Linked DNA regions of Homo sapiens: region 1 is linked to region 2. The links come from fine-mapping of genetic effects on gene expression. A gene starts in region 2. The other region holds a variant in brackets. All regions are shown on one strand. Distances are from middle to middle.

Region 1 (5,219 bases), 83 kb after region 2:
CGCCCACTTCGGCCTCCCAAAGTGCTGGGATTTTAGGTGTGAGCCACTGCGCCTGGCCAAGACCGTGGTTTTTGAACGATTCTGTTCAGCCGTAGAATCTTTTATCCAGGCAGAGAACCCAGCAGAAGAGAGCTGTGTGGGTGGAAGGTGGGAGGCCTTGTACCCCATCTGGTGAGCTCTTTCTTCCCTGTACCCGCAACCCCCACACGCTGTCCCCAGAGGCCCCGATGTAAGTCTCAAGGGCTGCGCTTCAATCAGACAGCAGAGATGTCCCAAATGGGACCCTTGAACCCTAAGTGGAGGAAGAGAGGAACAGACCCTCATCCGTCAGCTGCTGCCAGTGCCTTCTCCTTCTGGAAAGTCCTGGTCCAGCCCATCCAAGCCCTGGGGAGATCGGAGCAAGGCCCCCCTGGGGAAGAGGGCACAGCCTTCAGCTGGGGAAAGCCACCCCCACCTCACCGTGGAATGCTTCCAGAAATACAGCACGTCCTCCACATTTTCCAGCGAATGCAACAGGAAGTGGTCGCGCCATTCTTGCCAGTCAATGGTCATTGTGCCGTCTCGGTCCATGCTGGGGGGAAGAAAGGGGGTGGAGGAGGACAGGTTCAGTGCCTGGGGGTGGGCTAGGCTGGGGTGAAGTTCTGCTAGGTTTTGCAGTTTGGGAGGTTCAAGTCCTCATATCAACCCTATTAGAGATGTAGCAAATATTACCATCATTTTCTTTTTTCTTTTTTTTTGAGACGGAGTCTTGCTCTGTTGCCCAGGCTAGAGAGCAATGGTGCGATCTCAGCTCACTGCAACCTCTGCCTCCTGGGTTCAAGAGATTCTCCTGCCTCAGCCTCCCATGTAGCTGGGACTACAGGTGCACACCACCATGCCCAGCAAATTTTTGTATTTTTAGTAGAGACAGGGTTTCACCATATTGGCCAGGATGGTCTCCATCTCTTGACCTCGTGATCCACCTGCCTCGGCCTTCCAAAGTGGCAGGATTGCAGGCGTGAGCCACCATAGCCAGCTGTATTACCCTCATTTTGTAGAGGGGGAAACGGGCTAAGAGAGGCAACTGGTCCCAGATCTGTCTGGCTTCAATTTGAATTTTTCTTTCTTTTTTTTTTTTTTTTTCCAGAAGGAGTCTCACTCCGTCACCCTGGTTAGAGTGTCCTGGCCTGATCTTGGCTCACTGCAACCTCCACCTCTTGGGTTTAAGGGATTCCCGTGCCTCAGCCTCCCCAAGTAGCTGGAATTACAGGCATGCACCACCACGCCTGGCCAATGTTTGTATTTTTAGTAGAGATGGGGTTTTACCATGTTGGCCAGGCTGGTCCCCAACTCCTGACCTCAGGTGATCCACCTGCCTCAGCCTCCCAAAGTGCTGGGGTTACAGATGTGAGCCACTGCGCCTGGCCAGATCTGTCTGACTTCAAAGCCCCAACCTCTCAGCTGTATCCTCCTTGGGACTGGGTCTGGAGCCCAGAAGACAGAGATGGCCAAGGGGTCACTGTGTCCTGAGTTACTTTGGATTCCAGACCCCCAGCGACTCACCTGTGCAAAATTTTCTCAGCCTGCTCCAGCGAGATGGAAATGCCCAGAGCTCGGAAACTCTGTTGGATCTCAGAGACATCAATGTGACCTGGGGAGGGGGCCGGAGGTGGGGAAGGATGTGCGTGTGAGGACACCTGGGGAACCCCAGGACCAAGGATCAGAACAGCTTGGAATGGAGGTGGTCTAGCAAGATCAGGGGCTCCAGAAACCTAGGAGGAGGTTTGCAGTAGGGCTGTGGGGGGACCCCTGACTCACTGGGGTCAGAGAGGTGGAACTGGGAAATACTGGGGGGGCTTCTCTGTTCTGTAAATGAATGAAGGAATCCAGGGGTAATTGTAGGGGTCTCTATGCCATGGGGGATTGAGAGGCAATATCCACAACCCAGATGCTGCTATGAGGGGATCTCTGTCCCACAGGGGACCCAGGAACAGCATAGGGTATCTTTGCCCCATAGAAAAATCTAAGGGTAATTATCGGGGTTCTGCCCCAGTAGGGAAAGGAGGTGGGATGGGCTGGCTGGGCCTCGAACCACCTAGCTAGGGGGTGAGGAGTGCTCCTGAAATAGCCTATGAGTCATCGGGGAGAAGC[G/A]GCCCTCCCCCTCTCCTCCTAGCGCTGCCAGTTCTAACCCCACTGATGTCTCTAGGGCCCCCACAGCCCTATCCCTTGGGGCCTGCAGGCAGGTCGCCCGACCTTACCATCCTGGTTCCGGTCAAGACTGTGAAACATGAGCAGCAGACGCTGTTCCCGCTCCTGCAGATAGCGGGAAAATTCCTCCAGGTCGAGCCCGCCATCTGGGTCAGCATCACCCTCAGAGGAGATACCCTGACAGAGGGAAAGGGGATAGAGGTGGCTCCAGGAACCTGCTCCTGATCTGGAGGGGACGCATGTCACCTTATGCCTTAGGAACCCAGAGCCCCCAGCGCCTTGAGGAAGGGGATAGAAGACGTCACCCCACTTCTCCCTCAGTCAGCTAACTTCTCAGCCAGATCCCTACAGCCACCACAGGTCTGTGCGGTGGGTGTGAGTGGTCTAGTTTTCCTGGTGAGCAAACTGAGGCTCTGCAAGGTCAAGTCACCAGTTCAAGGTCACAGAACCAGGAAATGGTAACCTCAGTTCTCATCTGTAAAGCCTGTCCTTCCAGCTGTCTCTTGTTTTTAGTTTTTGTTATTTTTTTAGGTATCTCATTCCTGTTGAACCCAGCTGCCTCTTAAAAAACCCTGTCCACATGGGGGACCCAGGGGTTCCCTTTGGAGGAAGCCCTGGGCGATGTGGGGCAGGAGAGAACCAAGCGGAGTGGCTGAGGCCTTGGTTTTTCCCATTTGGGAAGTGGGAGGTTGGACTGCTCTCAGGGTTGCTGTGGTTCTCTTAGAGCGATCTGGGGCTACAGGTGTGGGAAGGACCTGCAAAGTGGAGGTGGGGGCAGCGGGAGGAAAGTCTTGTTATAGGTGCATTCCCAGCTGCGGGTGACCGCAGACAGGATTGGGTCCCTGGCTGGGGCAGCCCGGGACAGTGAGCCAGGCCCGTGAACGGCCCATGAAAGGGCAGGCCAGGGAATGTAAACACAGGGATCGGGGCAGCTGCAGGCCAGGGCAGTAGGTGCCCAGAGGATGGAGGGTGTGTCTCCTGGAGGTGAGAGCAGGGCACGTCATGGGCTGTGCAGTCTGGAGGAGGGTGTGTCCCGGGCAGTGGGCAGGAAAGCGCCCCCATCTCTTCCCAGGCAGACGCCCCCTGCCCCGCAGCAGGGGGATCGGGTGTTGGCCGCGGAACTGCAGGCTTGGGGCCTCGGCGTCCCTGTCTTGAGCGATCCCGTTAGGCCAAACACGAGTGGGTAGGGGGAACGAGACAGAGACACAGGTTCTGGAGTCCAGCCACAGGTAGTCCCTGGTGGCTCCGGCCGCCCAGTTCAGGGGCTTGGGTAACCGGGAGCGGGCGGGGCCGGGAGGGGAGGAGGTCCCTGGGGGTGGGGGTACCTGTTGGGCGCCGGGGTCTGGGTTGCCCCCGCCCAGCCTGGCCAGCCCCTGGCGCAACTCGTGCACGTCCACGCGGCCATCCTTGTTACTGTCCAGCTCCTCGAACAGGCGACCCCAGCGCTGCCGCCGCTCCGCGTCGCCCGGGCTCCCCCGCATGGCGCCCGCCCGGGGGGGAGGGGAGGCCCGGCAGCGGCGGCCTCAGTGGGGGCTTCGCGGCTCCCCCTCCCCCCCCGGGACCCCGCAGGGTCAGCTCCCGCGGCCGCCGGCTCCGCAGCCTCCGCGCAGTCCGCTCGGCTCTGGCACTTGCGGGAGGTGGTGACGGCTAGCCGTCGCCGCCCGCGCCAGAACTTGCGTCTCCTCCCCCGACCTGCATTGGGGGGAGGGGACCGAGGGCGGAGCTGGGGGCGTGGGGAGGGAATGTCTGGGATGGTCTGGTATTGCACAGCCGAGGAACACCAGAGTTCCTTCTGGGAAGACGGGCTAGGGAGCTCAGTGGTCTCAGGTCTGGTTTCAGAGTTCCGCCTCTGCGTGCCTCAGTTTACCCTTTCCCCCTTTGCCCAAGGGGGCAAGGTAGAGCGCTGTCGGGGATTGGGTTTCATAATCCCCTTCCACTTGACCTCCCCGCCACACCCACTAATCTTCAGGAACTCAAGTTCTCGCTTTTCCCAGACGCACGCAAGAACCGTGCACCATCTCGCTCGCTCTCTGCCCGCCCGCGCCTTACACCTTCCCCGCTCGGCCGCAGAAACAGAAGATCCAGGAGCGATGCTCTCCCACTGTCCCTTCTTCCCGCCCGCGCGCTTCCTTTCTCGGTTCCCACTCTGACTGGGAAACAGAAAATCAACGCGCGGCGCGGCTGCAAAGTCGGTTTCCTATTGGTCAGCGCCTCCTGGGCTGAGCCCGCCCGCCCCGCCTCTTCTCCCACCTAGGCGGGGCCTCCCCGCAGACCCCCGACTGCCTCCAGCCCGCAGTCCCACCGCCTGCCAGGAGATCTTAAAGGGGCCGCGGCCGCAATCAGACGCTGAGCGGCGTGGGGAGGGGGTGGCTCAGTGACCCGGGCGCGGGGTTGAGGATCCCAGTGGTCGAGCGCTGGAGGCAGGGCCCCAGCCTGTCGCACTCGCTGCACCTGCGGAATGTCCCTACTGCTAGTTTCGGGCGCAGTTTCTCGATCCACCATTAGGGGGAAGGGAGCCCAGACCACTTGACAGCGAATACTCGATAACAAATCTCACTTTGATTCAGTGCTTTGCACATGCCAGGGCTTTTACTCACCTCTCGAGTCGTCTTTGCCAAAACCCTATAAGGTAGGTGGTACTGGCGTTCGCACTTTGCAGATAAGGAAGCGGAGGTTAAGTCATTCTCCCCAGTCCTGATGACCACTAAGGGGCAAAACAGGGTTTAAAGAGATCTGGGATCCTTAACCATCACTCTATACCCTAGAAAGAATTAATTATCTTTTTTTTTTTTTTTTTTTTGAAACGGAGTTTCGCTGTTGTTGCTCAGGCTGGAGTGCAATGGCGCGATCTCGGCTCACTGCAACCTCCGCCTCCCGGATTCAAACGATTCTTTTGCCTCAGCCTCCCGAGTAGCTGGGATTACAGGCGCCCGCCACCAAACCCAGCTAATTTTTGTATTTTTAGTGGAGACGGGGTTTCACCATGTTGGCCAGGCTGGTCTCGAACTCCTGACCTCGTGATCCGCCCGCCT
Region 2 (5,389 bases):
TCTGGGGGCGGGACAGGAGGCGAGCGTAGGGACGGGGCGTGGCCACGCTGGGGGCGGGGACAGTGGGGACCAGTGCTGGGATGGGGCGTGGCCACGCTTGGGGGCGGTTACAGCGCAGTCGAGCGTGGGGGTGGGGCCAGGGAGTCGGGTGTAGGGTTGGGGTGCGATTACGCTGCTAGCAGTTACAGTGCAGAAGAACGTGGCGGCTGGGATTGGGGCGTGGTCAGGTCGTCGAGCGCATGGATGGGGCGGGGCCAAGCTTGGGGCGGGGTCCGTGGAGTCAAGCGCCGGGATGGGTTGGGGCCATGCTGTGGGGGGGACGGGGAAGTCGAGGTTTAGAGAGGGCAGAACCACGCTGGGGGCGGAGATAGGGGAGACACATGCTGGGATGGGGCAGGGCCTTTTTGGGGTCGGTAGCTATTGCAGGGATTTGGGAGCTGGGCTATGGTGGGGGCTGGGCTGAAACTCTGGCTGTGGGAGGGGCGGGACCTGGGGGATGAGGACCTTGGGGTCAGGGAGAGCACTTTTGCGACCTGGGACCAAGGTTAGGGGCGGAAACGGATGTGGAGCCAGATGATGTTGAGAGACAGAGACAGGACACTTGGGTGGGGTCAAGTTGTAGGGAGATTCAGCCAATTGAATGCTGGGGCCGGGCCAGCATTGGGGACCTGGAATTGTAGCCTCAGGGTGAGTACTAAGGACTGAGGTCACACCTAGGTAGGGCCATAGTTGAGGGGCTAGGGGAGTTTGAGTTGAGGGCAGGGTCAAGAGTCACATAGGGAAACCAGCCCCTTGCCGTTTTCTGCCCCTCCTTGCCTCAGTTTCCTTGTTCCCTCTGGGAGCTCCCAGGCTTAACCGAGCTCTCTGTGCAGGCCATCCACGGCTTCCGAGAGACAGAGAAGTCGCGCTGGTCAGAAGCCAGCCGGGCCATCCTGCAGCGCGTGCAGGCGGCCGCCTTTGGCCCCGGCCAGACCCTGCTCTCCTCCGTGCACGTGCTGGACCTGGAAGCCCGCGGCTACATCAAGCCCCACGTGGACAGCATCAAGGTGGGCAGAGGACGGTGCCTTGGCACTCCCAGCCAGGGGGTAGGCAGGCCCGGTTAGATCCTGACCCATCCCCACGCCTCTTTTGCAGTTCTGCGGGGCCACCATCGCCGGCCTGTCTCTCCTGTCTCCCAGCGTTATGCGGCTGGTGCACACCCAGGAGCCGGGGGAGTGGCTGGAACTCTTGCTGGAGCCGGGCTCCCTCTACATCCTTAGGTACCTCCATCCAGGCAGCACCCACCCCTCCAAGAATGTGCCATCCGCCCACCCTGTGCCCTGGGTACTTTCCCTCAATCCAGCCCTCCCCGAAGACGCCTTTACCCCAGGGTCTGTGTGGGAGGCAGCAGGGGGCTGGAATCCAGGAGGCTGGAATCCAGGTCTGCCTGGAGCAGGGGCTGCCCTCCTTGCACCCAGTCACAGCCTGTTTCTTCCTGCAGGGGCTCAGCCCGTTATGACTTCTCCCATGAGATCCTTCGGGATGAAGAGTCCTTCTTTGGGGAACGCCGGATTCCCCGGGGCCGGCGCATCTCCGTGATCTGCCGCTCCCTCCCTGAGGGCATGGGGCCAGGGGAGTCTGGACAGCCGCCCCCAGCCTGCTGACCCCCAGCTTTCTACAGACACCAGATTTGTGAATAAAGTTGGGGAATGGACAGCCTAACTGGGACATTGCAGTGGCTGCTTGCTGGGGCCGGGATTTGCAGGGGAACCCAGGATGGCACTGGCCCATAGGGAGCTCCAGGTGTGGCTGGCTGGACACATGGTCAAAGTCACAAGGCCGGGAGAGTGGTGTCCTTTATTGCACTCACTGCTGGTCGCCCCAGCCCACTCCCCTCCTCGTTGTCTCTGCATCCAGGTCTCCAATAAATAAGTCAGCCGAGCTCCCCCAGCACTGCAGCTTCTGGGTGCCAGGCCGGGCACCCTCAGCCACCACAGCCGCAGGCAGCCGCCGAGAGCTGGGGCAGCCGCTGCCAGCGGTGGCGGTCATCGAGGAAGGCCACGTCGGTGTAGCGAGTGGGCCGGCAGCAGGGCCCGCCGTGGGCTCGGCCCTGGCCCTGCAGCCGGGCCAGCGCCAGGCCATGCTGGGTGCGGGCACCACGGGGGCAGCTGCCGGCGCAGTAGCGGAAGATGACCTTCTCCTCTGAGGCGTAGCCCAGGCCTAGCTCTGCCACGGACAGGGTCAGGCTCCACAGCTGGCATGGACCAGACAGGGCTCGGCGCAGGCGGGCAAGGGGGCGGTGGGTGCCTGTGGGAGGGAAGGGCGCTGACAGTGAGCAGGGTCAGGGCTGGGGAAAGTTGGGAAGTCACAGAGGGTCCCTGGAAGTCCTTACCCAGCCAGGTCCCTCCAGCCTTTGCCACCTGTTCAGACGAGAACTCTCCATCGGCCACGGGAACCCCACGGGCATCGGGGCCCCAGCCCTGTCCCAGCTGCAGGGACAGGAGCAGCAGGGAGCCCAGCAGGAACTTCCCTACGGCCATTGTGACGGGCAGGTCCTGAGAGTGGGAGCTGTGCCCCAAATTTATGCCCTGCCTGGGCTGGGAGCTAACCTCTTCACTGCCGGCCCCTGCAGCCAGGAGGCCCCACGTCTGCACCAGCCCATCTCCTGCACCCTCGAATCCAGGCATCTGCTCCTTCTGCCCCACACCCCACCCTTCTAAGAGTTAAGGGCTCACCCCCAGCCTACCCCACCCCGACATTCCACACAGCCATTTCCGACGCCCCAGACACCCCCTGATTTACGAGTGCTGTGCTGGCGGCCAGGGCAGGCAACTGGTGTTCCCCCGACCTGCTGCCTGGAGTGGAAGTCAGGGGGCTTCATGGGACCCCGGTGGGGTCCCTCCCCACTAAGTCAGGGTGCTGGGGCTCAGGAGCCCCCACGTGTATCATGTGCCAGGTGGAGCATATGTGAGTGCTGGGAAAGGTGGCTTGGCAGGGGACTGAGTCCACGGGAACCCTCCATGGTGGCTCCCGCCTGGAGGATTAGGACATCATGCCCCTGTCTCCGGGCCTGGCTGAGCCAGCATCAAAACAGGAAAAGGGAGAGGCCTGGGGACAGCCAAGGGTGGGGACACAAGGGGACAGGGACGCCTGTCTCGGGAAGGCCAACCTGAGACCCCTATAACTGCAGCCCCATCCTGGGATCTGAGCATGTCAGAGCCCCCGGGGCGATGGAGGCTGTCCAGGTCATGGTAACGTCTAGCACGATGCAGACAGATAAGGGCTCTCGAGGCTTCCATACCCAGCCCCGTGTGAGCCCAGTCCCCTCACCGGTACAGGGGAGCTCCTCAGAACCCCTCCTACTCGGCTTGGTGAGGAAAGAGATGGGCACTTAGAGTGTAAGGCAGTGCCCGTAGCTTCGAATGCAAAAACAAGCAAACAGCTTGTGATTGTCCGAAGGGGTGCTTGACTCTAAGCACCCACAAGATTGGGGAAAATCAGAAAACCCTCACACACAACCCGTGTGACCCAGGTGCACCCTGTGCTGTTGGTGGGGGTGTAAATTGCTAGCAGCTCTTTGGATGAGCAGCTGCTACTGGGGAATTGTAAATTACACCCTCTGCCCCAGGAGCCCTGTTTGCGGGGTTCCTCCCACACAGGCAAGTGAAACAGCCAGCACAGGGACATCTGATGCCTTCTTCATATTAGGAAAGTCTGGAAGTGGCCTCAACTCCATCCGTGAGGGATTGCTTCGATGATTATGTTGTGGTTTTTCTTACTGAAGTGCTTATTGAGATGATAATTTTCCGATGGAAAGAAAAGCCTGGGCTTGGCGTGGTGGCTCATGCCTCGGGAGGCTGAGGCGGGTGGATTACCTGAGGTCAGGAGTTTGAGACCAGCTTGACCAACATGGTGAAATCCATCTCTATTAAAAATACAAAAATTAGCTGGGCATGGTGGTGGGCGCCTGTAATCCCAGCTACTCGGGAGGCTGAGGCAGGAGAATTGCTTGAACCTGAGAGGTGGAGGTTGCAGTGAGCTGAGATTGTGCCATTGCACTCAAACCTGGGCGACAGAGCGATACTGTCTCAAAAAAGCCTGGCGGGGCCCAGTGGCTCATGCCTATAATCCCAGCACTTTGGGAGGGTGAGGTGGGAGGATCACTTGAGGTCGGGAGTTTGAGACCAGCCAGGCCAACATGGTGAATCCCTGTCTCTAACGAAAATACAAAAATTAGGCGAGGCACAGTGGCTCACGCCTGTAATCCCAGCACTTTGGGAGGCCGAGGTGGGCAGATCACCTGAGGTCAGTTCAAGACCAGCCTGGTCAACATGGTGAAACTCCGTCTCTATTAAAAAATTAGCTGGGTGTAGTCCCAGCTACTCGGGAGGCTGAGGCAGGAGAATCGCTTGGAACCCAGGAGGCAGAGGCTGCAGTGAGCCAAGATTGCACCACTGCACTCCAGCCTGGGCAGCAGCATGAAACTCCGTCTCAGAAACCCAAAAAACAAATTAGCTGGACCGTGGTGGGGCGTGCCTGTCATCCCAGCTACTCAGGAGACTGAGGTAGAATTGCTTGAACCCAGGAGGCGGAGGCTGCAGTGAGCGGAGATCATGTCACTGCACTCCAGCCTGGGCGACAGAGCGAGACCCCATCTCAAAAAAAAAAAAAAAAAAGCCTGAAGTCACCCAGAATTAAGCAACGGTCCTGGTATTTGAACCCAGGTCCTCCGTGAATGCAAAACCCCTGCTCCTCACCACAGGGCCTCACCACCCAGCCTCCTTACATGAAGGCCCAGGCAGTGGGGGTGGCTGGGGCGAAACTGCTGAGGCAGCGGCTCCCTCCAGAGCTGCCTCCCTGCTGCCCAAGAAGGCCTGGTGGGAGAAGGGGGAGGGAGGTTGGCCTGAACTGGGACATTCCGAGGAATTAGCCAGACATCTCAGGCATTCCTGCTCGGCAGCCAAGGGCTGCAGAACTGGGTGGGGAAGACTTCCACCTGCAAGTTTCCAACCACCGGCAAGACAGAAGGGATTGCCCGGAAGATGGGTTCAAAAGTAGTGGCTGCAGGCAAATTCCATTTCCAGCCATATTAATGTTTCCAGCCACATTTTCCAGTTCCATTTCCAGGAACTGGAAAAGCCCTCCCTTACAGAATGCCTGGCAACGCCAGATCAAATATATGCATGACCGAGCTTGTAAGAAGGGAGAAGCCCCCCGAAACATCACCGGGAACCTCAAACATAGGGACCCACAATCGGGGCAGTGGGGGGGGTTGGCTTTGGTGGCCACCTGCAAGCTGAGAACCACACACAAAATGGGCTGGGGCTGGCGCTCCTGGGTAGCTAGCGAAAGCCAAGGCTGAACCATCTGGAAGGACTGCCTGCAAAGTAGGCCACCCCGGATTCCCACA

What was found. PIP is the estimated chance that this variant, and not a neighbour inherited with it, causes the effect.
Region 1: its variant is fine-mapped to the expression of PSPN in whole blood (INTERVAL, PIP above 0.99).

The regions. Positions count from the first base shown.
Region 1 is chr19:6,455,961-6,461,179 of GRCh38, forward strand. It overlaps SLC25A23 (solute carrier family 25 member 23), which reads right to left and starts at 3,832. Exons shown (of 10, transcript NM_024103.3): 1 at 3,513-3,832; 2 at 2,238-2,364; 3 at 1,543-1,630; 4 at 460-571. The coding sequence starts at 3,668. RefSeq lists silencers at 3,584-3,643, 3,694-3,833, 4,344-4,523. The variant G/A (reference allele first, on the strand shown) is at 2,131.
Region 2 is chr19:6,373,331-6,378,719 of GRCh38, forward strand. It overlaps PSPN (persephin), which reads right to left and starts at 2,603. Exons shown (of 2, transcript NM_004158.5): 1 at 2,372-2,603; 2 at 1,818-2,286. The coding sequence starts at 2,519. The coding sequence ends at 1,964. ALKBH7 (alkB homolog 7) reads left to right here. Exons shown (of 4, transcript NM_032306.4): 2 at 873-1,046; 3 at 1,135-1,259; 4 at 1,481-1,920. The coding sequence ends at 1,643. RefSeq lists an enhancer at 1-118 and a silencer at 1-187.